Regions from separate parts of the Homo sapiens genome. Here regions 1 and 3 are each linked to region 2. The links come from fine-mapping of genetic effects on gene expression. A gene starts in region 2. Each other region holds a variant in brackets. All regions are shown on one strand. Distances are between the middles of the regions.

Region 1 (9,951 bases), 120 kb after region 2:
TTAACCTGTTTTTTGATGGTGTCTTTTTAGGTTATCTCAAGTTCATTTCAAGCTCTGAAAGTAGGAAGTAAAGTAAGAACCGCGTGGCACTAGCAATCACTAGGCATTGTTCCAAGCACACGGATAAACTGAGAATCCTCGTGGTCGCCCCGGGGGTGGGACTGCCATTGTCCAGAGAGACCTGCTTTTGCCTGTGGTGCCACACGGGTCCCTCTCACAGGATGCGACCATGGTGGCTTTGCGTCATGTCACCTCAGCCAGGCAGGACCTTCTGCTGGAACCCCCTTCCCTGGTAGTCCTCGGAGAGGGCTGTGCACAATCTGGAGGCAGAAGCGAAGCAGTAGCCCCCGTGCGCGGCAGCTCTTGAGGCTGTGCTGCTGTTGGCTGTGCTGTTGTTGGCTGTGCTGTTGTTGGCTGTTTTGCTGTTGGCTGTGCTGTTGTTGCCTGTGCTGCTGTTGGCTGTGCTGCTGTTGGCTGTGCTGCTGTTGGCTGTGCTGCTGTTGGCTGTGCTGTTGTTGGCTGTGCTGTTGTTGGCTGTGCTGTTGTTGGCTGTGCTGCTGTTGGCTGTGCTGTGCTGCTGTTGGCTGTGCTGCTGTTGGCTGTGCTGCTGTTGGCTGTGTTGTTGTTGGCTGTGCTGTTGTTGGCTGTGCTGTTGTTGCCTGTGCTGCTGTTGGCTGTGCTGCTGTTGGCTGTGCTGTTGTTGGCTGTGCTGCTGTTGGCTGTGCTGCTGTTGGCTGTGCTGTTGTTGGCTGTGTTGTTGTTGGCTGTGCTGCTGTTGGCTGTGCTGTTGTTGGCTGTGCTCTTCTGCTGTTGGCTGTGCTGTTGTTGGCTGTGCTGTTGTTGGCTGTCCTGTTGTTGGCTGTCCTGTTGTTGGCTGTGCTGTTGTTGGCTGTGCTGTTGTTGGCTGTGCTGTTGGCTGTGCTGTTGTTGGCTGTGCTGTTTTGCTGTTGGCTGTGCTGTTGTTGGCTGTGCTGTTGTTGGCTGTGCTGTTTTGCTGTTGGCTGTGCTGTTGTTGGCTGTGCTGTTGTTAGCTGTGCTGTTGTTGGCTGTGCTGTTGTTGGCTGTGCTGCTGTTGGCTGTCCTGTTGTTGGCTGTGCTGTTGTTGGCTGTGCTGTTTTGCTGTTGGCTGTGCTGTTGTTGGCTGTGCTGTTGTTGGTTGTGTGTGCTGACCCCGGACCCCCTACAGTATGGCTGTGCATGGACTGGTGATTTGGCCCCCATGGCCTCATCAGCCCTGATCCATCCCTGCATTGAATTCGTATGGGGCTTGTGGTGAGTCTGGACTGACTCAGCTTTCTAAAAGCTGAAAAGCAAAAGTTAATAGGTCTGCAGAGATAAATGGACAGACCCGGTATCCTCCTGAGAGCTCAAAACACCTCCCAATTATTGATAACTAAATATGTAGTGGAGATATAGATATGTATAAAACGCACATTACATACTGTGTGTGCACATACAATATTTCAACAGCAGAGGCGACTGGCATGATTCCATAATTGATACAGAACCGTGTAGCTAGCCGTTGGAGAATACACATTTGTAGGCACCTGAGGAACATTCACAGATATTACACAGCCAGGCCATAAAACAAGTCTCGAGACATTTCAGAGACTCACTGGCGGACAGATGGTATTCCATGCTCACAAAGTAATGAAATTAAAAACTGGATACAGAATAATAAAGGAAAGGTGATAATTTTTAGTTAGAAGATATACAAATGTGTAAATCACATGAGTCAAGTCTCAGGAGGTTTTAAAATAAAAAGTTAAAAAAGTTTAAAAATAAAAATAAACAGTCACAAAATTATTCTATCTAAAATTTTGGGATGCAGCTAAGGAAACTTAAACCTTTAAACAGGTGTGACGAAATTGTGGCCTGCAGGCCCAGTGGGGCCTCAGCCTGTTTCTGTACAGCTTTGGAGCCAAGAAGGGTTTTCACATTTTAAAAATGTTATCAATGAGAATAAACACAACCAAGCAGAGTCTGCGATGTGGACTGCATGTGGCCCACAGGGCCCGAGGTTCTCTCTGGCCCTGGCAGGAATCACTTGGTGACTCGGCCTCAGACACGTGTACAGAAAAGGAGAAAGGTTCACTCTGCACAGGGCGGGTGGGAAGAGGGCAGTGAGCAGAACCCTAGAAATGAAGGAGGTGGAAGACAAAGATGAGAGAGGACACACAGAGCCAAACGCAGCTCTTCGAGAGGGCTGATGGGACCAATAAACGCGTGGCCGACGGGCAGAAAGCAGGAGCCTTACACACGGAAGGGAGCCCTCGTGCAGCCACCGTGGAGATGGAAAATGGCATGTTAAGAATATCTTTTGCCAGGAAATTTGGTAGCTTAGGCAAAATAGACGTTCCGAGAGAAATGTAATTTATCAAAGTTGACCCAGGTGGGAATAGAAAAGTGACTCCTCACTGCTTCAGCGCATCTGCTTGTAAGCGGGAACGATTACTGTTGACCCCATAGGATTTTTAATGATTTTGTTGAGACGCAATTCACATGCCATTCAGTTCTGTCATTAAGTGTACAGTTCAGTGGCTTGTAACGCATTTGCAGAGTTTTGCAGCCATCGCCACAGTCAGTTGTAGAACATTTTACCCCACGCTCCTTCGCTGTCATCCCCAACCCCCCCGACAGATGGATAAACCCCCCCTCCTAGACACCACAGATGGGTTCTCTGTGTCTACCCATTCTGGACATTTCCTGTGAATGGAACCGTGCCCCCTGTGGTCCTCTGTGGTGGCTCCTTGCCCCGAGCGTGGCGTTGGCGTGGTCCGTGGGCGATGCAGCCCCCAGCAGTGCTCCTTTTCTTTTCCTTGTTGAAGCCTGTTCCATCGTGTGGCATCTTAGTCAGCTCAGGCTGTGGAAACAAGTCACCACAGATGGGGGCTCAAGCAGCACAAATGTATCCCTCACAGTTCTGGAGGCTGGGTGTCCAAGGTCGAGGTGCCAGCAGGCTCGGCAGCAGGCTCGGTTTCTTCCGGGTTTTCCTGGGCCTGCAGGCGCTGCCTTCCTGCTGCGTGCTCGCCGTTCGGTCTGTGTCTTGGTGTCCTTGTTTCCTCTTCTTAGGCGGACACTGGTCATAGCAGATCCGGGCCCCACTTGCGTGGCCTCATTTTACCTTACGCATCTCTAAGGGCCACATCTCCAGATACAGGCACTCGGGGGCACTGGGGTTAAGACTTCAGTATGTGGATTTCAGGGAGACAGAATTCAGCCCACGACGTACATGGAGGCCGCATTTTATTTATCCATCTGTCAGTTGGTAGACGTTTGGGTTGTTTCCCACTGTAGGCTGCTGTGAATAAAGCATTCGTGTGTGAGTTTTTGTGTGGATGTGGTTTTTGTCTTGGGTATAGGCCTGGGCTTGGAGCATAGGACTGTTCGGAAAGTTAAGGGAATGAACGTATTCAGAGCTCAGAACCGTGTCTGGCTTGCGATGCGTTCTGTTTTGAGGTTAGTGATGATGATGGAGAGCGGCTCCCGAGGACGAGAGCTCGTGATGGAGAGTGCCTCTTTATGCCCGATGTGAATGTGGCTACTCAGCTTTCTCTCTCTCTTTTTTTTTAAATTAATTTATTTTGTCGAGACAGGTTCTTGCTCTGTTGCCCAGGCTGGAGTGCAGTGGTGTGATCATAGCTCACTGCATCCTTGACCTCTTGGGCGCAAGTGATCCTCTGACCTCAGCCTCCTGAGTAGCTGGAACCACAGGCATGTGCCACCACGCCCAGCTAATTGTCGTATTTTTTTTCTTTTTCTTTTTTTGTAAGGGTAGGGTTTTGCCATGTAGCTGGTCTCAAAGTCCTGGGCTTAAGCAGTCCACCTGTCTCAGCTTCCTAAGGTGCTGGGATTACAGGCTTGAGCCACTGCATCCAGCAACACCCCCCCTCCTTTTTTTTTTCTGTTTTTGAGTCAGGGTCTTGCTCTGTTGCCCAGGCTGGAGTGCAGTGGCTCACTCACGGCTCACTGTAGCTTTGAACTCATGGGCTAGATCCATCCCCTGACCTCAGCCTCACAAGTAGCTGAGACTACAGGTGTTTGCCAGCACACCCAGCTCATTTTTTCTTTTTTTTTTTGTAGAGACGGTCTCACCATCTAGCCCAGGTTGGTCTTGAACTCCTCGCCTCAAATGATCCTCTCATCTTGGCCTCCCAAAGTATTGCGATTACAGGCATGAGCCACTGTTAATGGCCCCAGCTTTCTTTGGGTTCGTGTTTTCTCAGTGTATTCTTTTCTGTCTTTTAATTTTTTTATATTCTTGCATTTTAGATGTATGTTGAGTAAAAATCTACCGTATGTGATTTTAAGCTGGTGAGTTTAGTCCATTTACTTTACTGACATGTTTGGGTGTCTTTGTCTTATTATATGAATTTTGCTTTTTCAGATTTTTTTTTGTTTTTAAAAGTTGTGGTTCCTATTGGGCCCCCAACCCAGTCCCATTCCACATCTTCTTCCTTGTTGGTTTGGAATCATCTATTCTGTTTCCTGTGTTTCTTCAGGGGTCGTATTCAGCTTGTACCACGAATATTCAGAGCCAACAGCCAGCTTCTTAGCCTACCCTCCAAGTAACACACAGCACACCCTGACCTCGATCACTTTCCATCTGACATATTTGACATTGTTGAGTTTTTAGTTCTTCTTGTTTAACATTAGACATTACAGGTTGAGCACCCTGAATCCGAAAATCCAAAACCGAAAACTTTTTGAATGCTGAGTTGACACTCTGCAGGTGATGGGCTGCAGTCAAAACACAGGTAAACAACACACAGTTGATTCAGCACCCCAAGGGGAAAAAGATCCTCCCA[G/A]CCCCCTTCAGCTTTGATAAATCCTTTCCACATAAGACCAGGTTCCCTCATGCAAGCACGTCCACAAAGGGCGATGAAATGTCGGGTGCAGGCCGGACGCAGGCGCTGCAGGCTCCTTATGAGGCTCCACATGGGCGAGACCTGTGCGCACCGCTCGTGTGTTTGCGTATCCTCTGCTCTGTGGTGTACAGATACTGTTGAAAACATCAGAAAGGCCTGCAGGTTACTTGTATGGGGGTGTACAGATACTGTTGAAAATGTCAGAAAGGCCTGCAGGTTACTTGTATGGGTAACAGTGGTCAGAAAAGGGGCAAGCATTCACGTTTGCATGTCGCACAGAAAGTCAGACTGCTGGGGGGAGCTGGGCAGCAGTGTAAGAGCACGGTGCTGGAGTGAGTGCCAGAGATGACCTAAGAAACAGGAGGAATGGTTGACGTTCTGTGCTGGAAACGATGACCAGAAAAACCCTGCACAAAGCTACACGTGAAATTTCTATCACGTATTGAAAGAGTGGATCTGTCAGCATCGCAGTGGACACAAGCCACTTAACAGTGCCAATCACAAGACAAGCAAAGCTCTGTGTAAAGGCCCTGATCGCATTCATGAAGCTCTGTCCTTGGGACTCATCATCTACGAAAGGCCACACCTCCTAACACCGTGCTCTTGGGAGTGAGGATTTCAGCAGGAATTCTGGGGAACAGAAGCATTGGGGCGTCGCATCTCCCTGTGGCCTTCCTCCCTGTGGCCTTCCTCCGCCTGCCAGCTGCCCCCTCACCCTGCTGTCCACCTCACGGACCCCTCTTCGCCCCATATGGGCCACTTTGGCCCCCACCACCCCTTCCTGGATGTGCAGACCCTATGCGGTGCCACCTGATGCTTCAAGACTGAATTTTCCAGAGGGGCAGGGAAAGGTGTTTGCTTTTTTTTTTTTTTTTTTTTTTTTTTTTTTTTTTTTAATTTTTTAGAGCCAGGGTCACTCTGTTGCTCACGCTGGAGTGAGTGCCATGGTGTAGTCGCGGCTCACTGCAGTCTTGGCCTCCTGGACTAAAGCGATCCTTCCACCTCAGCCTCCCAAGTCACTGTGGCACTATGGGTGCATGCTACCGTGCCCGGCTAATTTTTTTTATCTTTTGAAGAGATGGGATCTCACTATGTTGCCCAGGCTGGTCACGAACTCCTGGGCTCACGTGATCTACTCACCTCGGCCTCCTGAAGGGCTGGGATTACAGGTGTGAGCCACTGTGCCTGGCCAGGTGTTTGCTCTTAAAAAGTCATTTCTCTCTTTCTGTGTGTATTTGTGTTTTGAGGTAAAATTTCACATAACATAAAAATAACCATTAACTTTAAAGTGAAAAACTCAGAGCATTTAGTACATACCCAATGTTGCACAGCTATTACTTCTGTCTACTTTTAACACATTTTTGTCACCGAAAAAATACTCTGGTGTCCATTCACATAGTCATGACACATCACGACACATGACTGTATTCCCAACCCCTGGCACCTGCCAGGCTGTTTTCTGCCTCTACGTTTACTTATTCTGAGAATTTTATACACATGGAGTCTGCAATGCGTGACCCTTTGTGCCTGGTTCATCTGTATTGTAGCATGTGTCAGGCCTTCATTTGTTTTTATGGCTGAATAATATTGCTTTGTATGGGTAGACTCCCCCCCCACTTTTTTTTTTTTTTTTTTTTTTTTTGTAGAGACAGGGTCTCACCATCTAGCCCAGGTTGGTCTTGAACTCCTGGCCTCAAATGATCCTCTCATCTTGGCCTCCCAAAGTATTGTGATTACAGGCATGAGCCTGAATCTGAAAAAGCAAAATTCATATAGTAAGACAAAGACACCCAAACATGTCAGTGAAGTAAATGGACTAAACTCACCAGCTTAAAATCATATGGTAGAATTTTACTCAACATACATCTAAAATGCAAGAATATAAAAAGATTAAAAGGAAAGACAGAAAAGAATATGCTGAGAAAACACTAACCAAAAGAAAGCTGGGGCCAGTAACAGTGGCTTAATGCCTGTAATCACAATACTTTGGGAGGCCAAGATGAGAGGATCATTTGAGGCGAGGAGTTCAAGACCAACCTGGGCTAGATGGTGAGACCCTGTCTCTACAAAGAAAAAAAGAAAAAAAACAGACGCCCCAATGCTTGCGTTCCCCAAAATTCCTGCTGAAATCCTGACTCCCAAGGGCACAGTGTTAGGTGTGGCCTTTCGTAGATGATGAGTCACAGGGACAGAGCTTGATGAATGCTATCAGGGCCCTTACACAGTTGACGGACACTTAAGTTTTCCCACCTTTTGGCCCTTGTGAAGAATGCTTCTGTGAACGTTTGCGTACAAGTGTCTGTTTGAATCCCTGTCTTCCCCTTTTTTGGGTGCGCATCCAGGGCGGGATCGCTGGACCGCGTGCGGACCCTCGCTGCGCATCCAGGGCGGGATCGCTGGACCGCGTGCGGACCCTCGCTGCGCATCCAGGGCGGGATCGCTGGACCGCGTGCGGACCCTCGGTGCGCATCCAGGGCGGGATCGCTGGACCGCGTGCGGACCCTCGCTGCGCATCCAGGGCGGGATCGCTGGACCGCGTGCGGACCCTCGGTGCGCATCCAGGGCGGGATCGCTGGACCGCGTGCGGACCCTCGGTGCGCATCCAGGGCGGGATCGCTGGACCGCGTGCGGACCCTCGGTGTGTTACTGAGGCGTCCCCAAGCTGTTTCCACAGACGCTGTGCTGCCCTGCATTCCCACCAGCAAGGCGCAGAGCTTCTGGTTTCTCCATGTCCTCACCAACACCTGTGTTGTTCTTTTTTAAAAAATTATAATCAGCCTCGTAGGTGTGAGGGGGTATCTTGTGATTTTGATTTGAATTTTTCTTAATGACGAATGACACTGAGCATCTTTTCATGTGCTCCTTGGTTGTTTGTGTATTTCTCTGGATAAATGTCTAGTCAAGTCCTTTGACCATTTTTAAATTGGATTGTTTGTCCTTTTGTTGTTGAGTTGTAAAGCTGTTTGTATCTTCTGGATATTAAACTCTTATCAGATATATCATTTGCAAGTATTTTCTCCCATTCTGTTGGTTGTCTTTTTTTTTCTTTTGATAATGTCTTTGTATTGTGTCGTGTTTAATGTAAACATTTCACCATTGTTTTAATTCCCTCTTTTCAGTTCTTTTCTGTGTGTGTGCAGTTTTTGGGTGTGTGTGATGTGTACATACACACATGCACATATACAGGTGTCTAAAAAGTATTTTGTTTTTTTGTTTTAAATATTTGACACTTTTAAATTGGAGTTGAGATTCTGTATGGAGTAACGTATTGTTGAATGACAGGAAAGTATGAAGCTTGTCGGAGTGTTATTACTTGGCATAGCCACAGGAGCCATACAAATGATACAACCTTGCTGCTTGTGTCTCATGGTTTTTTTTTTTTTTTAATTTAATTTAATTTTTTTTTCATTTTTTTTTTAAATTATACTTTAAGTTTTAGGGTACATGTGCACATTGTGCAGGTTAGTTACATATGTATACATGTGCCATGCTGCTGCACTGCACCCACTAACTCGTCATCTAGCATTATTTTAATTTGTTTTAGTTTTTTTTTTGAAAAAGGGTCTTGCTGTGTCACTCAGGCAGGAGTACAGTGGTATGATCACAGCTCACCGCAGCCTTGACCTCCCAGGCTCAAGCGATCCTCCTGCTTCAGCCTCCCAAGTAGCTGGTGCTACAGGGGCACACCATCATACCTGGCTAACTTTTGTATTTTTTTGTAGAGATGGGATCTCCCTATGTTGTCCAGGCTGGTCTCGAACTCCTGGGCTCAAGTGATCCTCCCGCCTCAGCCTCCCTAAATGCTGGGATTACGAACATGAGCCACTGTGCCCAGCCAGCCTTTGTTGTTTTTGAAAGTTGAAATTCATGTTTTTGGATCAAAGCTAAGCTGTGACATATAAACATGAAGTGATCTAGTTAGGTTTGGTTATACACCATGTGCAGAAAGCAACCTCTTCATGAATCTTTTAATGAACATCTTTCTACCTGGAAGAAACCCTTTACCTACTAAACTTACTTTCACACCTTCCTAATTTTGTTGTCTTCCGTGTTTTTGCTAGCTCCAGGCCTATTCGGCATTTAAAATAAAATGCAGGTTGGCCAGTCTGGCTGGGCAGTTCTACAGGTACTACGGCTGGAGGATCCCAGTTGACTTGAAATTCAGGTTTTGCTTGTGAAAGTAGCTGGCTGGGGCTTCTGTTGATGACAGTGCTGTGTGGACGGCCTGGTTCGCTGGGTGTGCCTCACAGACACAGGACACTTTTTAGGGTTGCTTTTGAATGTGCCTGAGGTGAGGTTCCTGTGTTTTCCTTGTACTTACCTTCATATTTTCTGACCCTCCTGTGGATGGAAAATCGACTGAGTGTGTGAAGGGCCTGTCGGTGTGAACGGGCCCTGCTCAGCCGGTCCATGGCTGTCTTAGGATCCCGCTTGGTGGCGAGGAGGGTGCGGCTCGTGGGTGGCTGCCTGGGGCTACCCCGTGTAGACTTGCTGGGACTTTGTCTAGACAAGAGAACTGCTGTCAGTGGCGCTTCCTGCGGGGGGATGAGTGCGGCTCTCAGCGCCTCTGTGGGGCTGGGGGTCTTGGGCCGTGAGGCCGGGGCCAGGCTGCGTGGCAACCCTGAGTCCCACCCTCATTGTCTTTGCTCGGGGCCCCGAGAGGCCATGGGGAGCCTGCCGGCTCTGTGTCCTCCCCGCACTGGCTTTTAGGGAAAGAGAGTCTCGTGGGTCATCCGGCCTGCCGGCTCTGTGTCCTCCCTACACTGACACACTGGCTTTCAGGGAAGGGGAGTCTTGTGGGTCGTCTGGCCTGCCGGCTCTGTGTCCTCCCCGCACTGGCTTTCAGGGAAAGAGAGTCTCGTGGGTCGTCTGGCCTGCCGGCTCTGTGTCCTCCCTACACTGACACACTGGCTTTCAGAGAAAGGGAGTCTCGTGGGTCGTCTGGCCTGCCGGCTCTGTGTCCTCCCTACACTGACACACTGGCTTTCAGGGAAAGGGAGTCTTGTGGGTCGTCTGGCCTGCCGGCTCTGTGTCCTCCCCGCACTGGCTTTCAGGGAAAGAGAGTCTCGTGGGTCGTCTGGCC
Region 2 (9,951 bases):
GGAGTTCGAGACCAGCCTGGCAAACATGGCAAAACCCTGTCTCTACCATAAATATGAAAATTAACTGGGCGTGGTAACGTGCGCCTGCAATCTCAGCTACTCGGGAGGCTGAGGCAGGAGAATTGCTTGAACTCGGGAGGCGGAGGTTGCAGTGAGCCGAGATCGTGTCACTGCACTCCAACTTGGAGACAGGGCAAGACTCCATCTCGGGGTGGGGAAGACCTGTATCTTGGAAAGATGATGTAGGGGTGCACTGTAAGGGGTATATTGGAGGGGGAATTCCAGGCAGCAGGGAGAGGGCTGGCGGGGGCTTTCCTGTGAGTGGGTAAGCAGGACTGTGAGAAGGGCAAAGGCCCAGGAGCCATGGAGGGGCCAGGACAGGGTGGTGAGAGAGAGGGAGCAGTGCCACCGGCTTGTCCACGTATTTCACTGAAGCCTGTGCCACGTCTGCACATCCCACCTCCACCCATCCACGCCTCTGCCTGAACCACTCCATTAACCAGCTGGCCTCTGCTTGGGGTGGCCCAGGGGAGCCGAGAGGAGATGGGGAGGGTGGGTGAGGTTAGGATATCATTCTCAGACTTCCTTCATCAAGCCCACACCCCAGGCCTGGGTGGCGCCAGCTCTGTAGCCAGGCTCAGCTCTGTCCTGTGGTCTCCCCACACCCTGCCCATGTCTGTGCCAGGCCCCTTTCTTGGGTCCTCCTTGATTCCTCCAGCTTGAGGTCCACATCCCACCTTTACTCCGTCCACGCCTCTCCTCTGGGCTGATGGTAGGATCACAAGCATGGGTGGCCCCGACACCTGACCAGCACCGCAGACCAGGCCCTGTACTAAGACATCCAGGCAGATGGGGAAAAAGATGGGTGGTACCACTCCCAGAACGGGAAACCGGACAGAGGGCAGGTTCTGTTTTGTTTGTGACGGAGTCTTGTTCTGTCACCCAGGCTGGAATGCAGTGGCGTGATCTCGGCTCAGTACGACCTCCACTCCCAGGCTCAAGCAATTCTCCTGCCTCAGCGTCCCAAGTAGCTGGGATTACAGGTGTGTGCCACCATGCCCGACTAAAATTTTTTTGTATTTTTCGTAGAGATAGGGTTTCACCAAGTTGATCAGGCTGGTCTTGAACTCCTGACCTTGTGATCTACCCACCTCGGCCTCCCAAAGAGCTGGGATTACAGGCATGAGCCACTGCAACCAGCCGATACAGGTCGTTTTAAAAACAGTATTATTTGCACACCATACAATTTACTCTACTAATTCTCTAAGAAACTTGGGATCACTTAACTGCCCTGCCCTTGAATCTTCAACAGCTCTTAACCCCCCACATAGAGGACTTCCTAGCCTGGTGCCTGCATATCTGTTTCTTCATTCAGGCACCTCTTCTCACTGAGAGACCTGAGCACTCGTATGGTTCTCTGTGTGACGCCTAATATCTGACTGTAGACTCATGAGTTGTATGAAGAAAAATTACAAGGGGCTTTGAGGCAGTAACAGAGAGGACTGACTCTAGACCACAGTGTTGGAATTCCAAAAAAGAGAACCAAGAATACAGAGGGAGAACGCCATGAAGGGCTAAAAGCTGTCCCAGGATTGGAGGACCCACCAGTCCTGTTCAGGGGATGACAGGAGACTCACCCTGACACCTCCCTGGGGAATTTTTCACTGGTGTCACAGAGAAGACCCTAAAAGCCTGCAGAGATAGAACAGTTTCCACACAAAGAATAAGAACTGAAATGGCCATAAGCTTCTCAACATCAAAACTGGAGCTGGCAGCTTCTTGGTTCCTAAAGAACATGGTCTGATCTCCAAGCTGGAATTTGATACCCAGCCAAACTGTCAACTAGGAAGAAAGAAATTTACAGACGTACGAGAGCTCACACTGGCCTGTCAGGAACCTTCTGTCAAGATGCGATAGCAGGGTGGGCTTCAGATGAGAAAAAGCCAGGGACTGGCACATGCCCTTTCTGCAGACACCACAGTCATCCTCCTGTCCTACCTGCTGTTCTGCGGCAGCCCTGCCACTCCTGTCAAGAGGTGGCTGCTTGGCCGGGTGCCATGTGTAATCCCAGCACATTGGGAGGCTGAGGCAGGCGGATCACCTGAGGCCAGGAGTTTGAGACCATCCTGGCCAACATGGTGAAACCCCGTCTCTACTAAAAATACAAAAATTAGCGGGGCGTGGTGACGCGTGCCTGTAATCCCAGCTACTCAGGAAGCTGAGGTAGGAGAATCGCTTGAACCCGGGAGGTGGAGGTTGCAGTGAGCCGAGATTGCACTTCAGCCTGGGTGACAGAGCAAGACCCTGTTTCAAAAAAAAAAAAGAGGTGGCTGCGGATCCCCTTGCCTTGATTGCGGCTTTGGAGACCGATGGAAGGAGGTGGAAATGATGGTGTGTGGCTTCTGAGGCCAGGTCAGAAAAGGCCTTTGCTTCTGCCAGCTCTCTGGGAGCTCTGGCTCTCCCAGTGCTCACTCTTGGAACCTGGCCTCCATGTTCAGGGAAGCTCAGGCCACACCAGGAGGCCACATGGACATGTCCTGCTTGACAGTGACCGCTAAGCCCAGGTTCCAGTGATCCTGGCCGAGGTGCCAGATGTAGGAGTTAAGGAGCCTCCCGATGACCCCAGCCCAGCTGAGCAAGTGGGCAGGACCGCGGGGATAGGCAGCTCCCAAAGGCTCCCTCCCCGCGGCAGGACCCCTGCATCTCTGTGGGAAAAGACAATTGTTGGGGCCCTAAAAAAAACAGATTTATTGATTAAAACCTCATGCATGGCCGGGCGTGGTGGTTCACGGCTGTAATCCCAGCACTTTGGGAGGCTGAGGCACGCAGGTCACCTGGCCAACATGGGGAAACCCCATGTCTACTAAAACTACAAAATGTAGCTGGGCAGGCCGGGCCGGTGGCTTGACGCCTGTAATCCCAGCACTTTGGGAGGCCGAGCGGGTGGATCACGAGGTTAGGAGATTGAGACCATCCTGGCTCACAGGGTGAAACCCTGTCTCCACTAAAACATACAAAAATATTAGCCGGGCGTGGTGGCGGGCGCCTGTAGTCCCAGCTACTCGGGAGGCTGAGGCAGGAGAATGGCTTGAACCCGGGAGGCGGAGCTTGCAGTGAGCCGAGATCGCGCCACTGCACTGCAGCCTGGGAGACAGAGACTCCATCTCTTAAAAACACAAAAAACAAACAATAAAAAAACCTCACGTCAAATGACTTCAGCACGGACTGGGCTCAGGTGCGCACCTGCTCGTGTGCACGCGTGTGTACCCACGTGTATGCATGCATGGGCGCGCGTGGGCATTCCTGTGTCTCAAGTCCCTTTCCCAGGACATCCTGGAATCAGCAGCCCCACCCTGGGCCGGGTCAGCGCGTGCCATCGGAGCCCCCACGTCAGCCTCTCTCTCCGATCGGCACCTGGCGTCCCAGTGCGCAAGCCCCACGTCATCACGGGGGCCGCTGGGCCCGGCCTGGTCTGCAGTGTGGGAAGCCGGCCAGGCCTGTGACCAGCGCCCGGGCCGAGGGCCGGACCTGCGTCCGCTGCGGGGCAGGGATACCGGGTCCCTGCAGGGAGCTCAAGCCCCAGCGCGCCCGCGAAGAGCTGCGCGGACTCCCGGCTGCTTCCCCCGAATCCCGGGCGCAGGAAGCGCGAAGCCGGACGAACGCGGGGAGCGCGCGGCGAGCCCGCCTGAGGCCGCCCCTCCCGCCGCCCGGGGTCACGCGCCGCGCGCTCCCGCCCCGCCCCGCCCCGCAGCGCCTCAGCCGACAGGGGCTTCCGAGCGAGCAGAGTCCCGCGCCCCGCACTCCATGGAGCAGCTGCTGCGCGCCGAGCTGCGCACCGCGACCCTGCGGGCCTTCGGCGGCCCCGGCGCCGGCTGCATCAGCGAGGGCCGAGCCTACGACACGGACGCAGGCCCAGTGTTCGTCAAAGTCAACCGCAGGACGCAGGTGCTGGCCCGTGCGCAGGCGGGGGCTCTGCGGGTCTCTGCGGGGCCTGGGAAGGCGGAGGGGTCGGGGGCAGGCGCATTTCCTGGGGCTGGGCCTGGGGAGGGGTCAGCTTTGGCCCTTGGGAGGTGGCACCTGCTGGGTGAGCCCGGCTCAAGCGTTCTGTGAAGGTTTGTGTCTGCACGATCCGTGACCTTCCTTTGGCCTCCATGCGCAGCGCACAGGCTTCTAGGGGTGGTTTTAACTTTCCTATCCAGCAAGCGTCGGGGGATGTGAGGCTTGGGGTCCTTGGCTCAGCTCTGGGCCGCCCCTCTCAGCCCACCGTCCTCCTGGCAGTGGGAAAGAAGCAGAGACATGGCTGGGCCCCTGGCAGGGACCCCACGGGCCAGGCCAGCGTTCTCCTTCCCACAGGCCTTGTCTGTGTTTAGACCTGATTTCTATCTCCTGCTGAAAATAGTTCTGTTTAAGAATGTATGGAAGGCCGGGCGCGGTGGTTCACACCTGTAATCCCATCACTTTGGGAGGCCGAGGTGAGTGGATCCCTGAGGTCAGGAGTTCGAGACCATCCTGGCCAACATGGTGAAACCCCGTCTCTACCAAAAAATGCAATAATTAGCCGGATGTGGTGCCACTGGCCTGTAATCCCAGCTACTCGGGAGGCTGAGGCAGGAGAATTGCTTGAACCCAGGAGATGGAGGTTGCAGTGAGCCAAGATCGCGCCATTGCACTCCAGCCTGGGCAACAAGAGGGAAACTCCGTCTCAAAAAAAAAAAAGTATGGAAAATGTTAACGGAGGAAGTGGAGAAGGTTAGCTTCAGCCTTGAGAGCCGGCAGGTGGAGAAAGGCAGGCCTGGGTGCCCTCCCGGCCCGAGTGGGCTCAGAAGGCCCTGCACACTCTGGTGGGGGAGCTCTCTGAGGGGCAGCAGGGGTCCTGGTGGGGAGTGCTGGCAGGAGGAACACCAGAGCCATGCAGCCTGGGCGTGCGATCGGATCCTCCGGCATCACCTGCTCTGCCGGCTCAGAACCAAATCCCTCAAAGTGGGGAGTCCTACTCACAGGGAAGCAGTTTTTGGTTCAGGCTTCCCACGGGCTCTGGGAAACTTCCTCAGCTGGTCCTGAAAGCTCTGCAGGGTGAGACCCCTCCTTCCCTCCCACCCCCACGAGGGGCCGGCACATAGTAGCTGCTCAGTCCATGCATAAGAGCAGGTGATGCTGGGGCCCCTGGGGCTTAGCAGCCCCAAGGCCGGGAGTTCCTGGCCTGGTGCATGGGGGGCTCGCCCTGGAGCAGGGCTGGGGTGTGCCGGCCGCCCTCCCACCTGTGGACACTCACACCCACCCTCGGTGCAGGCTGGCCAGGGCTGCCAGGCTGGGGAGGCTGTGCCTGGGCTTTCCCTGGGGTACTTTGAAGGAAAGGGCGTTCTGTTCGTGTGCACCAGCAGATGCTTTGGTCTCATTCATGAGGTTTGATTTTTTTAAACATGCAGTCCTACACTTTGGGCGACTGAGGAAAGGTGGATCACTTGAGGCCAGGAGTTTGAGACCAGCCTGGCCATCATGGTGAAATTCCATCTCTTTTTTTTTGAGACGGACTCTTGCTCTGTCGCCCAGGCTGGATCTCGGCTCACTGCAAGCTGCGCCTCCCGGTTCACTCCATTCTCCTGCCTCAGCCTCCCGAGTAGCTGGGACTACAGGTGCCCGCCACCTTGCCTGGCTAATTTTTTGTATTTTTAGTAGAGACGAGGTTTCACCGTGTTAGCCAGGATGGTCTCAATCTCCTGACCTTGTGATCCGCCCACCCCGGCCTCCCAAAGTGCTGGGATTACAGGTGCGAGCCACCACGCACGGCGGTGGAACTCCATCTCTAGTAAAAATACAGAAAAACACAGCGGGGTGGGGTGGCCCACACCTGTAATCCCAGCTACTCAGGAGGCCGAAGCAGGAGAATCGTTTGAACCCAGGAGGCGGAGGCTGCCGTGAGCCGAGATCATGCCACTGCCCTCCAGCCTGGGTGACAGAGTGAGACCCTGTCTCAAAACAAACATGCAATTCTATAGGCCAAGGTATTCATGGACCACGTTCGTCAATGCATGTTTTCAACCAATGTGTACTGTACGTGAGGTGAGTGTTCACCTAACTGAAAACTGGAATGTTTGTGGGAATATTTCAGAAACAGGAAGGCCCAGGTCCCACGGGAGGCGTTGGGGGCCGGCCGGGTGTGCCGTGCCTTTTACCTTCCCAGCCCCTGCCCTGGACCTGAGGCCCCGCCTGATGGGCCCAGCCCTCTTCTTCCCTGCCTGACGTGTGTGCCCAAGTTAGCTCCAGTGAGGCCTCTGCTGTGGCTGCCCCACCCTAAGAGGCAGCAAGGAAGGTGGGTAGCCCGGGGGTCCAGCTCTGGACCTTGGTTCACTCACACCTCCCCACGCCCTCAGTGCTCCCGGGCACCCACACGTGGCCTGTGCATCCTCCTGTCACAGCAGCCTGCAGACCCCACACCCCTCACGGCCCAGGCTCAGCCTCAGCCTTGCAGCCTCTCGTCTCCGACGGGGGGCCCCTCTGCACCCTGCCCTCTGTGGTGGACGCCAGCTCCCAGCCAGAGCCAGCTATCAGTGAATGAAGGTCCTTGTGACTCCCACGTGGTAGCTTCTGTCAAGGGCCCAGTGGGCAGAGGCCCTGGCTGAGTCAACAAGGCTGACAAGGCTGTGTTCTGGATGCAGGCCCGGCAGATGTTTGAGGGGGAGGTGGCCAGCCTGGAGGCCCTCAGGAGCACGGGCCTGGTGCGGGTGCCGAGGCCCATGAAGGTCATCGACCTGCCGGGAGGTGGGGCCGCCTTTGTGATGGAGCATTTGAAGATGAAGAGCTTGAGCAGGTGAGTGTGTGTGAGACCCATATGCGCACATGTGTACAGGCAGAGAGAGACTCAGAGACAAACAGAGAGAGACAGAGAAAGGGATAGAGATGGGGAGGGAGACAGAAACAGGGAGAAGCCTGTGGCTGAGCCGTCCACACAACTGCCCGGTTATCAGAGGCAGGGCCAAGAGTTCCACCCTGCCATTCTTAATGGAGATAAAAAGTTACTGCTTTCTGGTATGTGACTGGTTTTCCTAGATAAGTTTGGCTGTAATGAGGCTGCATAAAATATATATATATACACATATATATATATATATATATATTTTTTTTTTTTTTGAAACACAGTCTCGCTCTGTTGCCCAGGCTAGAGTGCAGTGCAGTGGTGCAATCTCGGCTCACTGCAACTTCTGCCCCCAGGGTTCAAATGATTCTCCCACCTCAGCCTCCTGAGTAGCTGGGACTACAGGTGTCCACCACCACACCTGACTAATTTTTGTATTTTTAGTAGAGATGGGGTTTCACCATGTTGGCTGAGTTGGTCTCAAACTTCTGACTTCAAGTGATCCACCCACCTCGGCTTCCCAAAGTGCTGGGATAACAGGCCTGAGCCACCACACCTGCCCAAAATAAGTATATTTGAACCCATCATTTGCTTTGTACTTTATTTTTATTTTATTTTTCCAAGACAGAGTCTTGCTCTGTTTCCCAGGCTGGAGTGCAGTGATGCAATCTTGGCTCACTGCAAACTCCGCCTCCTGGGTTCAAGCAATTCTCTTGTCTCAGCCTCGCGAGTGGCTGGGATTACAGGCACCCCACCACCTCACGCAGCTATTTTTTTTTTTTTTTTTTTTGAGACGGAGTGTCGCTCTGTCACCCAGGCTGGAGTGCAGTGGCGCGATCTTGGCTCATTGCAAACTCTGCCTCCTGGGTTGACGCCATTCTCCTGCCTCAGCCTCCCGAGTAGAAGGGACTACAGGCGCCCGCCACCATGCCCGGCTAATTTTTTGTATTTTTAGTAGAGACGGGGTTTCACCATGTTAGCCAGGATGGTCTCGATCTGCTGACCTCGTGATCTACCCGCCTTGACCTCCCAAAGTGCTGGGATTATAGGCGTGAGCCACCGCGCCCGGCCTAATTTTTGTATTTTTAGTAGCATGTTAGCCAGACTGGTCTCAAACTCCTGACCTCAGTGATCCGCCTGCCTTGGCCTCCCAAAGTGTTGGGATTACAGGTGTGAGCCACCACACCCAGTCCATCTTTTTCTTTTGCTTTTTCTTTCCTTTTTTTTTTGTTTTTTGAGACAGAGTCTTACTCTGTCGCCCAGGCTGGAGTGCAGTGGTGCAGTCTAGGCTCACTGCAAGCTCTGCCTCTTGGGCTCAAATGATTCTTCTGCCTCAGCCTGCAGAGTAGCTGGGACTACAGGTGTACCACCATGCCTGGCTAATTTTTTGTATTTTTAGTAGAGATGGGGTTTCACCATATTGACCAGGCTGGTCTTGAACTCCTGGCCTCATGATCTGCCTGCCTTGGCTTCCCAAAGTCCTGGTACTATAGGCCTGAGCCACTGTGCCACTATGCTTGGCCCTGCATTTTCACTTATCATTACTTTCTCAGCATTCCTCCCTTAATTCCTGGTACCTCCTAAGACTTCTGTTGAAGCTCACTTGGTTAATTCCTGTTTGTGATTACATGATGTTATTTTCTGGAAAGAGTCTTTGCCAGTGCTGGGCGTGGTGGTTCACACCTGTAATCCCAGTATTTTGGAAAGCCGAGGCAGGAGGAGACCCCATCTCTACAAAAAAAAAAAAAAAAAAAAAAAAAGCCAGGAATGGTGGCACAGGCATGTGGTCCCAGCTAGTTGTGAGGCTGAGGTGGAAGGATTGCTTGAGCCCTAGAAGTCAAAGCTGCAGTGAGCCATGATTGTGCCACTGCACTCCAGCCTGGATGACAGAGCAAGGCCTGGCCCCAGAAAAGAAAGAAAAAGCAAAAGAAAGAGTCATTGCCTGGTGTTCACTTTTTACTGTTTGAAGAATGGAGAATAGTTTTCAATGTATTTAAACCTTTCTCAAAATGGAACAAACTGGGTGGTGTTATTTATTATTTGTTATTTTAATTAGCTGCATTTCTTCTTTCCTCAGTCAAGCATCAAAACTTGGAGAGCAGATGGCAGATTTGCATCTTTACAACCAGAAGCTCAGGGAGAAGTTGAAGGAGGAGGAGAACACAGTGGGTATGTTCAGATTGCTTTTGGGTACCCTTGATCCAGCCACATTGTCTACCCTAGATGGGTGCTCATGGTACTTCTTGGTGGCATTTCAATAATAGGTTGAGTTGTATACCGTCTGTCTTTACACTACATTATGAAAATGAGATTATTAAATAAGAATTTTGATGTAGCTGATAAGCTAGTAGAATTGGCACATGATCCCTTTTATACCCAGCCCTCCTGTCTGGTGTGCTTGAGGTAATAATAACCCCTTTTATACCCAGCCCTGCTGTCTAGTGTGCTTGAGGTAGGAGTGTCCTGGCAGATCCATATATTGACTAATTGCTACTGTATGTAGTACATCCTCAGACCACCTATATTCTAGCATGCGTAGCCCAGGCTTGTACTGATGCTCTGCTGAGGTCTGGCATTTAAGAGAAAGACAAACAGCTCCTTCAGGCCAAGGATCTCTGTCAACAGGCCGAAGAGGTGAGGGTGCTGAGCCTCAGTATGTGGACAAGTTCGGCTTCCACACGGTGACGTGCTGCGGCTTCATCCCGCAGGTGAGTGCCTGGGTGAGGGTGTTCCCTGATGCCCTAATGCTGGTCACCCACTCTTTATATGTGACAGAATGCTAATCTCCCAAGCACCAGCAAGATTGACTACTTGATTTCTGAAAGCAGAGTAGAAGCTGTGATACCTGGAATGGGGAGAGCAGACGCTGAGGGTCACTGAGCTGAGCTGGGCAGGGTCATGGGACATGCTGGGGCAGGCAGATCAGCATTCCAAGCAGAGCGAGCCTCAAGTGCAAAGGTTGTGTTGCACAAGGCTCCTGATGAGTCTGAGGGACTGGAGACAGTGGGTGATGGGTAGTGTGCAAAGTCAGGGATTAAGTGCTGATTACTCAGCTCCTCTCCTGAGGCCTTTACAAATTATTATTTATTTAGATACAA
Region 3 (9,951 bases), 39 kb after region 2:
GCCTGCCCCGGAGGCCGGGCACGGTGGCTCACACCTGTAATCCCAGCACTTTGGGAGGCCGAGGCAGGTGGATCACGAGGTCAGGAGTTTAAGACCAGCCTGGACAAGATGGTGAAACCCCATCTCTACTAAAAATACAAAAATTAGCCGGGAATGGTGGCTAGTGCCTGTGATCCTTTCATATTTATTCAACTGTTCTCTTACAAATGAACAGCTACTTGGGAGGCTGAGGCAGAGAATTGCTTGAACCCGGGAAGCAGAGGTTGCAGTGAGCCAAGATTGCACCACTGCACTCTAGCCTGGGCAGCAGAGCAAGACTCCGTCTCAAAAAAAAAAAAAAAAAAAAAAGCCTGCCCCAGAAAAAAAGATCTTCTAAGTGTATCGTTATGGGAAAAAACAAACAAACAAACAAAAAAAACCGAGACAAGCATTGGAAACATTTTAAGGCAGCCCTCCGAAAAATAAATCTAGCTGGGCGTGGAGGTTTCATGCCTGTAATTCCAGCACTTTGGGAGGCCAGGGTGGGAGGATAGCTTGAGCCCAGGAGTTTGAGAGCAGCCTAGACAATATAATGTGACTCAGTCTCTACCAAAAAATAAAAGAAAATTAGCCAGGTGTGGTGGTACACACCTTTGGTCCCAGCTATTCTGGAGGCTGAGGTGGGAGGGTCATCTGAGCTGGGGAGGTTGGTGCTGCAGTGAGTTTTTTTTTTTTTGAGATGGAGTCTTGCCCTGTCACCCATTCTGGAGTATAGTGGTCTAATCTCAACTCACTGCAGCCTCTGCCTTTGAGGCTCAAGCAATCCTCCCACCTCAGCCTCCTGAGTAGCTGGGATTACAGGCATGTGCCATCATGCCTGGCCAATTTTTGTGTCATTAGTAGAGACGGGGTTTTACCATATTGACCAGGCTGGTCTCAAACTCCTGACCTCAGGTGATCCGCCTGCCCCAGCCTCTCAAAGTGCTGGGATTACAGGCGTGAGCCGCAGTGCCCAGCCTACAGTGAGCTTTGCTCACACCACTGTACTCCAGCCTGGGTGACAGAGCGAGACCCGGTCTCAAAACAACAGCAAAAAAACCCTAAGACCAGCTACTGGGGAGGCTGAGGCAGGAGAATGGCGTGAACCTGGGAGGCGGAGCTTGCAGTGAGCCGAGATCGCGCCACGGCCCTCCAGCCTGGGCGACAGAGCAAGACTCCGTCTCAAAAAAAAAAAACAAAAACAAAAACAAAAAATATATACACCTACTATGTACCCCAAAAATTAAACACTAAAAATTAAAAATAACTAGGTATTTGTAGTAAATCTAGGTGCTCTTCAGTTTGAACAGGGCCTCTTATCTAGTCTGAATACTCCAATACTGATGGTTCCCTTGTGCTGGAAGGCATATTAGGTGCTCAATGAATACTCTTGATTCTTTGTTACAATTGGGTAACTCCTTTGTTTACATTCTCCTGCTCTGTTCTTGCAAATGTGTGTTTCAAGGGGGTGTGACCAAATGCTCTGTGTAGCTCAGGCACTTCCTGGGTGAGTGTAGCAGTTGGCAGCTGTAGCCCTTGGCTCAGATTGAAGAGAGGTTTTTTTTTGCAGCTTTGGACTTAGGCCTGTGCTGGTAAGGTTTGTGAACCTGGGCCCTCGGGGAGCTGGTGAGGGTGGGACTGGTGACTGTGTGGTGTCCCCAAGGCTGGCGTGTGCAGGAGTGACCGTGTCTGTGCTTCACCCTTTCTTGCAGTCCTACTTGATTGTCAGTGACAAGGCCCGAGATGCAGCTGCTGTCCTTGTGTCCAGGTAAGTTTCCATGGCACATTTCTTGGTGTGTGGCTGGTGGGTTCTGAGAGGGGTTTGTTTGGGTACGTGTTTCATGTGCGTCTTCAGTCCTCAGACGAAGGACCCCGGGAAGTCTTTGGACTCTGTGGCTTTCTCTGAGGGAGTGTGCAGCAGTGTTTGGGCACAGAAGACCTCTGACCCTGAAATGACCACCCTCAGTGGTGGTTTGGGGTGCTGGTGGGGGTCACCTGACAGGCCCATCGACAGGAGTGCAGGTCTGGAAGAGGCGTGGCTGTCATCCCTGGGGTGCAGCCCCTGCACAGGGATGGGGTGGCAGTTATGAGAAACATCTCGGGCCGTCTCCCATGGAGATGATGGGTGGTGTTGGGCCTCTGTGACTGGGGATGAAAATCCCCCAACGTCCTGTATTAACTGCACCCCCCGTGTGCCCCAGACAGGGGAAGGTGGTTTTCTCTGCTGAGCGCAGCAGGCCTGCGGTGTTGGAAAGATACCAAGGATGTGTGTATAGACTGAGCGAACCTGTTTCATGAGATGCAAGAAGGAAGAAAGCAATATTTCTAATCAGTATTTTACATGACATGTGATTTTAAGTATGTATGTAGTTTACTAAGTCAGAACAGTTGACATTTTCCCCCTCTGCAATAGTGAAAGTCGAAAGCTGGTCCTAAAACCTTTCGGTGGTTGTGGTTGGGAATACGGTCAGTGCCTCATGCAGCGTCACCTTCACTCGGGTGTGTAGCTGCAACTTGCACAGCTTCTTTCCCAGAGAAGTGGGAGGAGAGAAGCTTCCTTTGTGGGGCAGTTGGAGGCATTGGATGAGGGGTTTGTGACAGCCTGGAGCTGAGGAAGGAACGCCTGAGTCCCCTGGAGCAGGTGAGGCCCCTCCCGAGAGGGCAGAGGCTGCTTCCTGTCTTGTCAAGGACATAAAAAGATGATCGTCTAATTATTAAAGTAATCTGTATATATTTAGATAATAGAGCATGAAGTACAAAATAAAACCTTTGAATGCTTTCATCCCATGGGGGTGTGATGGCCCCTGTCTCCCTACCGGGTGGCGCCAACTCTGTCCATGGTCTCCCCGCGGGGCGGCACCAACTCTGTCCATGGCTCAGTTGCTGCACTCAATTCTTTGCACCACGGACCAGGAGATGGGCCTGGTGCGCCATTGTCTTCTTCCAAAACGAGATGACCTGGTGCGAGAGTGTCTTTTCTTTTTCTTTCTTTTTTTTTTTTAATTGAGATGGAGTCTCACTTTGTCTCCCAGGCTGGAGTGCAGTGGCACGATCTCGGCTCACTGCAAGCTCTGCCTCCCGGTTTCACACCATTCTCCTGCCTCAGCCTCCCGAGTAGCTGGGACTACAGGTGCCCGCCACCATGCTCAGCTAATTTTTTTTTGTATTTTCAGTAGAGATGGGGTTTCACTGTGTTAGCCAGGATGGTCTCCATCTCCTGACCTCATGATCCGCCCACCTCGGCCTCCCAAAGTGCTGAGATTACAGGTGTGAGCCACCGCGCCTGGCCCGAGTGTGTCTTTTTTTTTTTTTTTTAATTTTTTTAGTATTTATTGATCATTCTTGGGTGTTTCTCAGAGAGGGGGATTTGGCAGGGTCATAGGACAATAGTGGAGGGAAGGTCGCAGATAAACATGTGAACAAAGGTCTCTGGTTTTCCTAGGCAGAGGACCCTGCGGCCTTCCGCAGTGTTTTTGTCCCTGGGTACTTGAGATCAGGGAGTGGTGATGACTCTTAAGGAGCATGCTGCCTTCAAGCATCTGTTTAACAAAGCACATCTTGCACCGCCCTTAATCCATTTACCCCTGAGTGGACACAGCACATGTTTCAGAGAGCACGGAGTTGGGGGTAAGGTTATAGATTAACAG[C/T]ATCCCAAGGCAGAAGAATTTTTCTTAGTACAGAACAAAATCGAGTCTCCTATGTCTACTTCTTTCTACACAGACACAGTAACAAACTGATGTCTCTTTCTTTTCCCCACATTTCCCCCTTTTCTATTCGACAAAACCGCCATCGTCATCATGGCCCGTTCTCAATGAGCTGTTGGGTACACCTCCCAGACGGGGTGGCAGCCGGGCAGAGGGGCTCCTCACTTCCCAGACTTGGCGGCCGGGCAGAGGCACCCCCCACCTCCCAGACGGAGCGGCGGCCGGGCGGGGGCTGCCCCCCACCCGAGTGTGTCTACCTGTCGTTTGTGGTGGGACATTTAGACTGCTGCCCTCCCAATTTGGTATTAAAACTCAATATTGCAAACAGTCCACGTAAAATTGTGTACCGTTCTGACTGATTTCTAGGGATGAGTTTCTACAAGTGGAACGCACGTTTTCAGGGTCTGAATGCAATTACTGGAGAGGCTGAACAAGTTGGAAGTTCTTTCCCCGTCTTTTCCAGTTGGGTCAAACCTTAAGAATGTTTGCCAACTTCGTTCAATGGGAAATAGTATCTGCTTTTATTCTTACTTTTCTTAGCAGCAGTACTGAGGGTTGCGTAGATTTTTGCCGAGCTTGGCTCTGTGGAGTGCGGTGCCTGTGGGCCAGGAGGCACCATCTGAGTACTTCTCCCTCCGTGGGGTCCTCCGGGAAAAGAGCGCGCTGGCTCGGGATCCCGGGCGGACTCCCGGCGAGACACCGCAGCGCCACCTAGTGCCGGGATGAGCAGGTGCTTTTCGGCCGAGCCAGTTTCCGTGCAGAACACCTGAGCCTGGGATCCAGGAGAGGTGGTGCCTGGGGGCGTCGGTGCCGTGGAGCCTTTCTCCCCCTTGGTCTCGCACACTCTCGCACACTGATTCTCAAGAGTGTTTGAGAATGGCGGATGCCGTCAGTGGAAGAGCTCTTACAGGTGCTTGGCCGGTTCCCTCGACACCTCCCAGACTCACCGCAGGTTCTGAGTTTCCTGTACTTCTCAGACCCCTTTTTGGTGAGGATTGTTCAGGTAAGGCCAGGGCTGCGAGGGGTCCTGTGCCAGCATTTGTCTGCAGTACAGGTTCGTTTTCTGCTCTCCAGGGAGGAGCAGCCTGCTCTAGCCCACTTTGCTCTCAGGATTGAATGCTTCTCCCTGTATCACTGGCGGCTCTACAGCTGCACCCGTCTCCCTTGATTAACTGAGCTTGCCAACATCCACAGCGCTGTAGGTGGTGCTTGGTGTTACAGTGTTGCTAGAACATGCAGATTGAGTGCTGCCTTAGAAACCCACAGGAAGGGGAACATCACACTCTGGGGACTGTTGTGGGGTGGGGGGAGGGGGGAGGGATAGCATTGGGAGATATACCTAATGCTAGATGACGAGTTAGTGGGTGCAGCACACCAGCATGGCACATGTATACGTATGTAACTAACTTGCACAATGTGCACATGTACCCTAAAACTTAAAGTATAATAATAAAAAAATTAAAAAAAAACCCCTTTAATAGATATGCCTTTCGCCAGGCACGGTGGCTCATGCCTGTAATCCCAGCACTTTGGGAGGCTGAGGCGGGTGGATCACCTGAGGTCAGGAGTTCAAGACCAGCCTGGCCAACATGGTGAAACCCTGTCTCCACTAAAAATACAAAAAAATTAGCTGGGCATGGTGGTGCGTGCCTCTAATTCCAGATACTTGGGAAGCTGAGGCAGGACAATCGCTTGAGCCCAGGAGGCAGAGGTTGCAGTGAGCAGAGATCGCACCATTGCACTCCAGCCTGGGCAACAGAGCAAGACTCCATCTCAAAAAAAAAAGAGGTACGCTGTATGCAGAAAAGTTGGAAATCTTGGCGTGGCGTGGTGGCACGCACCTGTGGTCCCAGCTATTCCGAAGGCTGGGTGGGAGGATTGCTTGAGCCCAGAAGGTTGAGGTTTCAGTGAGCTGTGATTGCGCCACTGCATTCCAGCCTGCACAACAGAGCAAGACCCTGTCTCAAAAAAAAGTTGAAAATCTTGAAACATAGAAGTTGGAAAAAGATATATAGGTAATTCTTATACACAGTGCGTGTACCGTGTTTATCTTCTTTGCACCGTTATGACTTTTAATGTGCACAGCATGATCTTAACAAGTCAGAGTCAGCACTGTGCTTTTTCACCTGATTTCATGTAACTGCTGATGAATGGCTCCGTCGTGTTCTGCTGTGTTTCGATACTGCACTCAGCTCTGTCACTTCCTGCCTCTTGTGAGCAGTCACGGACGCCTGGGTTTGGTTACAGACCCGTTCTCGTGTCAGGATTGTTTCGTGAGGATGGGCCCTTAGAGATGGACTTCTGGGTTCCAGGACACGAGAGTGGTGTTGGGGTCTGCACACCTGGTGGCTCTCAGCTGCTCTCTGAGCAGTGCTTTGGTGGCCGAGGCAGCCCCAGGAACACCCCACCCCCAAATTGGATTAAACATGGTGTCGCTGATTGCAGGTATTTAATTGGCATCACGCTGATTGCCCTCACCTTAGGTGTTACATACTCCGCTTCGTGACCTGACTCTGCGTGTCTGTGGGCTCCTTGGGGCCTTTTCTTCCCCACGAGTGTGAGTTTCCTCCGGTGAAGGGCGATGGGTATTGCCCCAGGTGGTTGTTGGCCTTTTCCTTTTTTTTTGGACCAAAGTTTTAATTTTAATGTCAAACCGTTTTTTTCTCCTTTATTTAGTTATTTTTACTTTTAAGCCTGCAGTCTTATTAAGAGATTTAACAAGTAGTCATTTATATTTTTCTCTACCGTTTATTAAGACAGAATTATTGATTCATTTGGGGTTTCTTTTGGTCTACAGTAGAACCCCGCCCTTCCCAGTAGGTAACCAGTTGCTTTAGTGCCATTTTGTGTCTGTAGGGACCAGCACCACAAGGTCGGTGGGTTTCTCCCTGTGTGTGGAGATGAGAGAGTGTAGAAATAAAGACACAAGACAAAGAGATAAAAGACAGCTGGGCCCGGGGGACAACTACCACCAAGTTGCAGAGACCGGTAGCGGCCCCGAATGCCAGGCTGCACTGATATTATTGGATACAAGACAAAGGGGCAGTGTAAGGAATGTGAGCCATCTCCAACGGTAGGTAAGGTCTCGTGGGTCACGTGTCCACTGGACGGGGGGCCCTTCCCTGCCTGGCAGCCGAGGCAGAGAGAGAGAGAGGAGAAGGAGATAAACAGCTTACATTATTATTTCTGCTTATCAGAGACTTTTCACTAATTTGCTACTGCTAACTAAACGGCAGAGCCAGGTGTACAGGATGGAACGTGAAGGCAGACTAGGAGCGTGACCACTGAAGCACAGCATCACAGGGAGACGGTTAGGCCTCCGGATAACTGCGGGCGAGCCTGACTGATGTCAGGCCCTCCACAGGAGGTGGAGGAGTAGAGTCTTCTCTAAACTCCCCCGGGGAAAGGGAGACTCTCTTTCCCGGTCCGCTAAGTAGCGGGTGTTTTTCCTTGACACTAACGCTACCGCTAGACCACGGTCCGCTTGTCAACAGGCGTCTTCCCAGACGCTGGCGTTACCGCTAGACCAAGGAGCCCTCTGGTGGCCCTGTCTGGGCATAACAGAAGGCTCGCACTCTTGTCTTCTGGTCACACCTCACTATGTCCCCTCAGCTCCTATCTCTGTATGGCCTGGCTTTTCCTAGGTTATGATTATAGAGCGAGGATTATTATAATATTGGAATAAAGAATAATTGCTACCAACTAATGATTAATGATATATATAATCATATCTAAGATCTGTATCTGGTATAACTATTCTTGTTTTATATTTTATTATATTGGAACAGCTCGTGTCCTTGGTCTCTTGCCTCGGCACCTGGGTGGCTTGCCGCCCACAGTATTCCGCTTTTCCATTCATTTCTAATGCTCTGTGGGAACTCTGTGCGTTTTAAAGGGAACACGGTTTGTCACCACCTTAATGCTGCTTCCTTCTGCGATGAAGTTAACTGCCCTGGGCCCCTTTTGCAGATCCGCTAAAGTTAACTCTCCTGGGGAGGACACATGAGTTTCTTTTTTCTTTCCTTTTCTTTTCGAGACAGGGTCTCACTCTGTTGCCCAGGCGCGAGTGCAGTGGCGTGATCACAGTTTACTGCAACCTCCATCTCCTAGGCTCAAGCAATCCTCCCACCTTAGCCTCCCCAGTAGCTGGGACTGCAGGCGCATGCCACGACACCCAGCCAATTTCTTTTTCTTTTTTTTTTTTTGAGACGGAGCTTTGCTCTTGTTGCCCAGGCTGGAGTGCAGTGGCGTGATTTTGGCTCTACTGGAGTGCAATGGCGTGATCTCAGCTCCACTGAACCTCTGCCTCCCTGGTTCAAGTGATTATCCTGCCTCAGCCTCCTGAGTAGCTAGGATTACAGGTGTGCGCCAGCACCCCTGGCTAATTTTTGTATTTTTAGTAGAGACGGGGTTTCACCATAGTGGCCAGGGTGGTCTCAAACTCCTGACCTCAGGTGATCCACCCGTCTTGACCTCCCAAAGTGTTGGGATTACAGGCATGAGCCACTGCGCCCGGCCATGCCTGGCTAATTTTTGTATTATTTTCTAGAGATGGGGTTTATTTATTTATTTATTTATTTATTTATTTTTACGGGGTCTTGCTCTGTTGCTAGGCTGGAGTGCAATGGTGAGATCTCGGCTCACTGCAACCTCCGCCTCCTGAGTTCAAGTGATTCTCATGCCTCAGCCTCCCGAGTAGCTGGGATTACAGGAATGCGCCACCATGCCCAGCTAATTTTTTAATATTTTTAGTAGAGATGGGGTGCAAGACAGGCTGTTCTCGAACTTCTGACGTCGTGATTCACCTGCCTTGGCCTCCCAAAGTGCTGGGATTACGGGCTTGAGCCACTGCGCCTGGCCAAGATGGGGGTCTTACCATGTTTACCAGGCTGGTCTTGAACTCCTGAACTCAAGCTATTCACCCACCTCCGCCTCCCAAATTGCTGGGATTACAGGGGTGAGCCACTGTGCCCAGCCAAATGATTCTTTACTTTCTGGAAATAGGGACTTCTTTCCCCATTGTTCATGCTGAGCCCCTCCCTAAGCATGCTCCACAGGGACAGTGGCGGAGGGGAGAGGTCCTTGCTGTTACGAGCAGTTGGCAGGTGCCAGCCGTCCTGTCAGCTGGGCAGCGCTTCTGTTTTGTGAGGGCCATGACCGAGTAGGATGGCACGTGCGTGGCTGTCTCCTGTGTGTTAAGTGCCCTGAGAGGGCTTGTCCCCACGGAAGCATGGAGCCGGCTCTCGCGCAGGCCAACTAGATGGATGTGCTGGAACAAGGGCCGGGAAGGTGGGATGGCCGGAGTTGAAGTTGCAGTGGAGATGACGTGGGGGCCGGAGGGAGGTTGGGCGTCATAGCCTGGCAGCTCCAGCTTCCACGTCTCACCTTGCCTGGGGTCTCCACGTAGCTGTCTCGTGGGCGTCGCGTGGGGCACTCCCCCACGTGGACTCTTCCGCCTCCTGGCCCTCCCAAGTGTCCCTTCCGGGAGGTGGCCTTGTGGCTGTTGAGGGAGCGCCTGGTGCCTCCCTCCTGGCATCACTGCCGTCTCCTTCCCCCCACCCCATAAAGGTGTGGCTAGGATGCCAGTCAGACCTGCCGGCATGGCCTAAAGAGGAGGTGGGCAGGCTTGGCCAGTACTGGTCCTGTCCCCAGCACCTCTCCCACTCGGCTGCTCTGCTTCGACCATGTTGCCTTTGCAGTTCGCGAGTTCCCTTGGCTCCCTTCTGCCCTGGGCCCTGGCTCTCCTGCTTCCCTGGGCAGCAGCACTTTCCTCCCAGGTTTTGCAGCCCCCCTCGTTGAGCTCCGTGGCTTCCGTCCTCTCTCTAACGAGGCCATGCCCTCCCGTTTCCTTCGTAACTTTTCTTTGCACTGTGGAAGTCCCCAGCTGTTTGTCGTTTCTCTCCAGAGTGTCAGCTGTGGGAGGGAAGGGCCTTGTCTGTTCTCCGTGTGGCAGTGCCAGTCTCGATCATGGAGGCAAGCTGGGGGCCTGGCCTATGAACTCCTGGTGGAGAAATCAGGAGGATCTGGGCTAATTAGCTGGGCATGGTGGCGTGCGCTTGTAGTCCCAGCTACTCGAGAGGCTGAGGCAGGAGAATTGCTTGAACCTGGGAGGCAGAGGTTGCAGTGAGTCAAGATCACACCACTGCATTCCAGCCTGGGTGACAGCACAAGACTCCATCTCAAAAAAAAGGAAGACTTGGGCTTTTTTTTTTTTTTTTTGAGACAGAGT

Evidence for each region. PIP is the estimated chance that this variant, and not a neighbour inherited with it, causes the effect. A credible set is the group of variants that fine-mapping cannot tell apart.
Region 1: its variant is the best candidate, but not a certain one, in a credible set for the expression of FN3K in whole blood (INTERVAL, PIP 0.83).
Region 3: its variant is the best candidate, but not a certain one, in a credible set for the expression of FN3K in ileum (GTEx, PIP 0.50).

What each region holds. Positions count from the first base shown.
Region 1 is chr17:82,849,509-82,859,459 of GRCh38, forward strand. The region is part of intron 13 of TBCD (tubulin folding cofactor D); the gene reads left to right. Among named protein-coding and RNA genes, the nearest start is that of ZNF750, 14 kb to the left of the region's middle. RefSeq lists enhancers at 1-208, 565-1,067, 9,725-9,951. The variant G/A (reference allele first, on the strand shown) is at 4,809.
Region 2 is chr17:82,731,833-82,741,783 of GRCh38, forward strand. FN3K (fructosamine 3 kinase) reads left to right here and starts at 3,783. Exons shown (of 6, transcript NM_022158.4): 1 at 3,783-3,945; 2 at 6,657-6,808; 3 at 8,931-9,022; 4 at 9,479-9,561. The coding sequence starts at 3,805. RefSeq lists enhancers at 2,814-3,526, 4,239-4,951, 4,952-5,663.
Region 3 is chr17:82,770,722-82,780,672 of GRCh38, forward strand. TBCD (tubulin folding cofactor D) reads left to right here. Exons shown (of 39, transcript NM_005993.5): 6 at 1,731-1,786. Among named protein-coding and RNA genes, the nearest start is that of TBCD, 24 kb to the left of the region's middle. The variant C/T (reference allele first, on the strand shown) is at 3,666.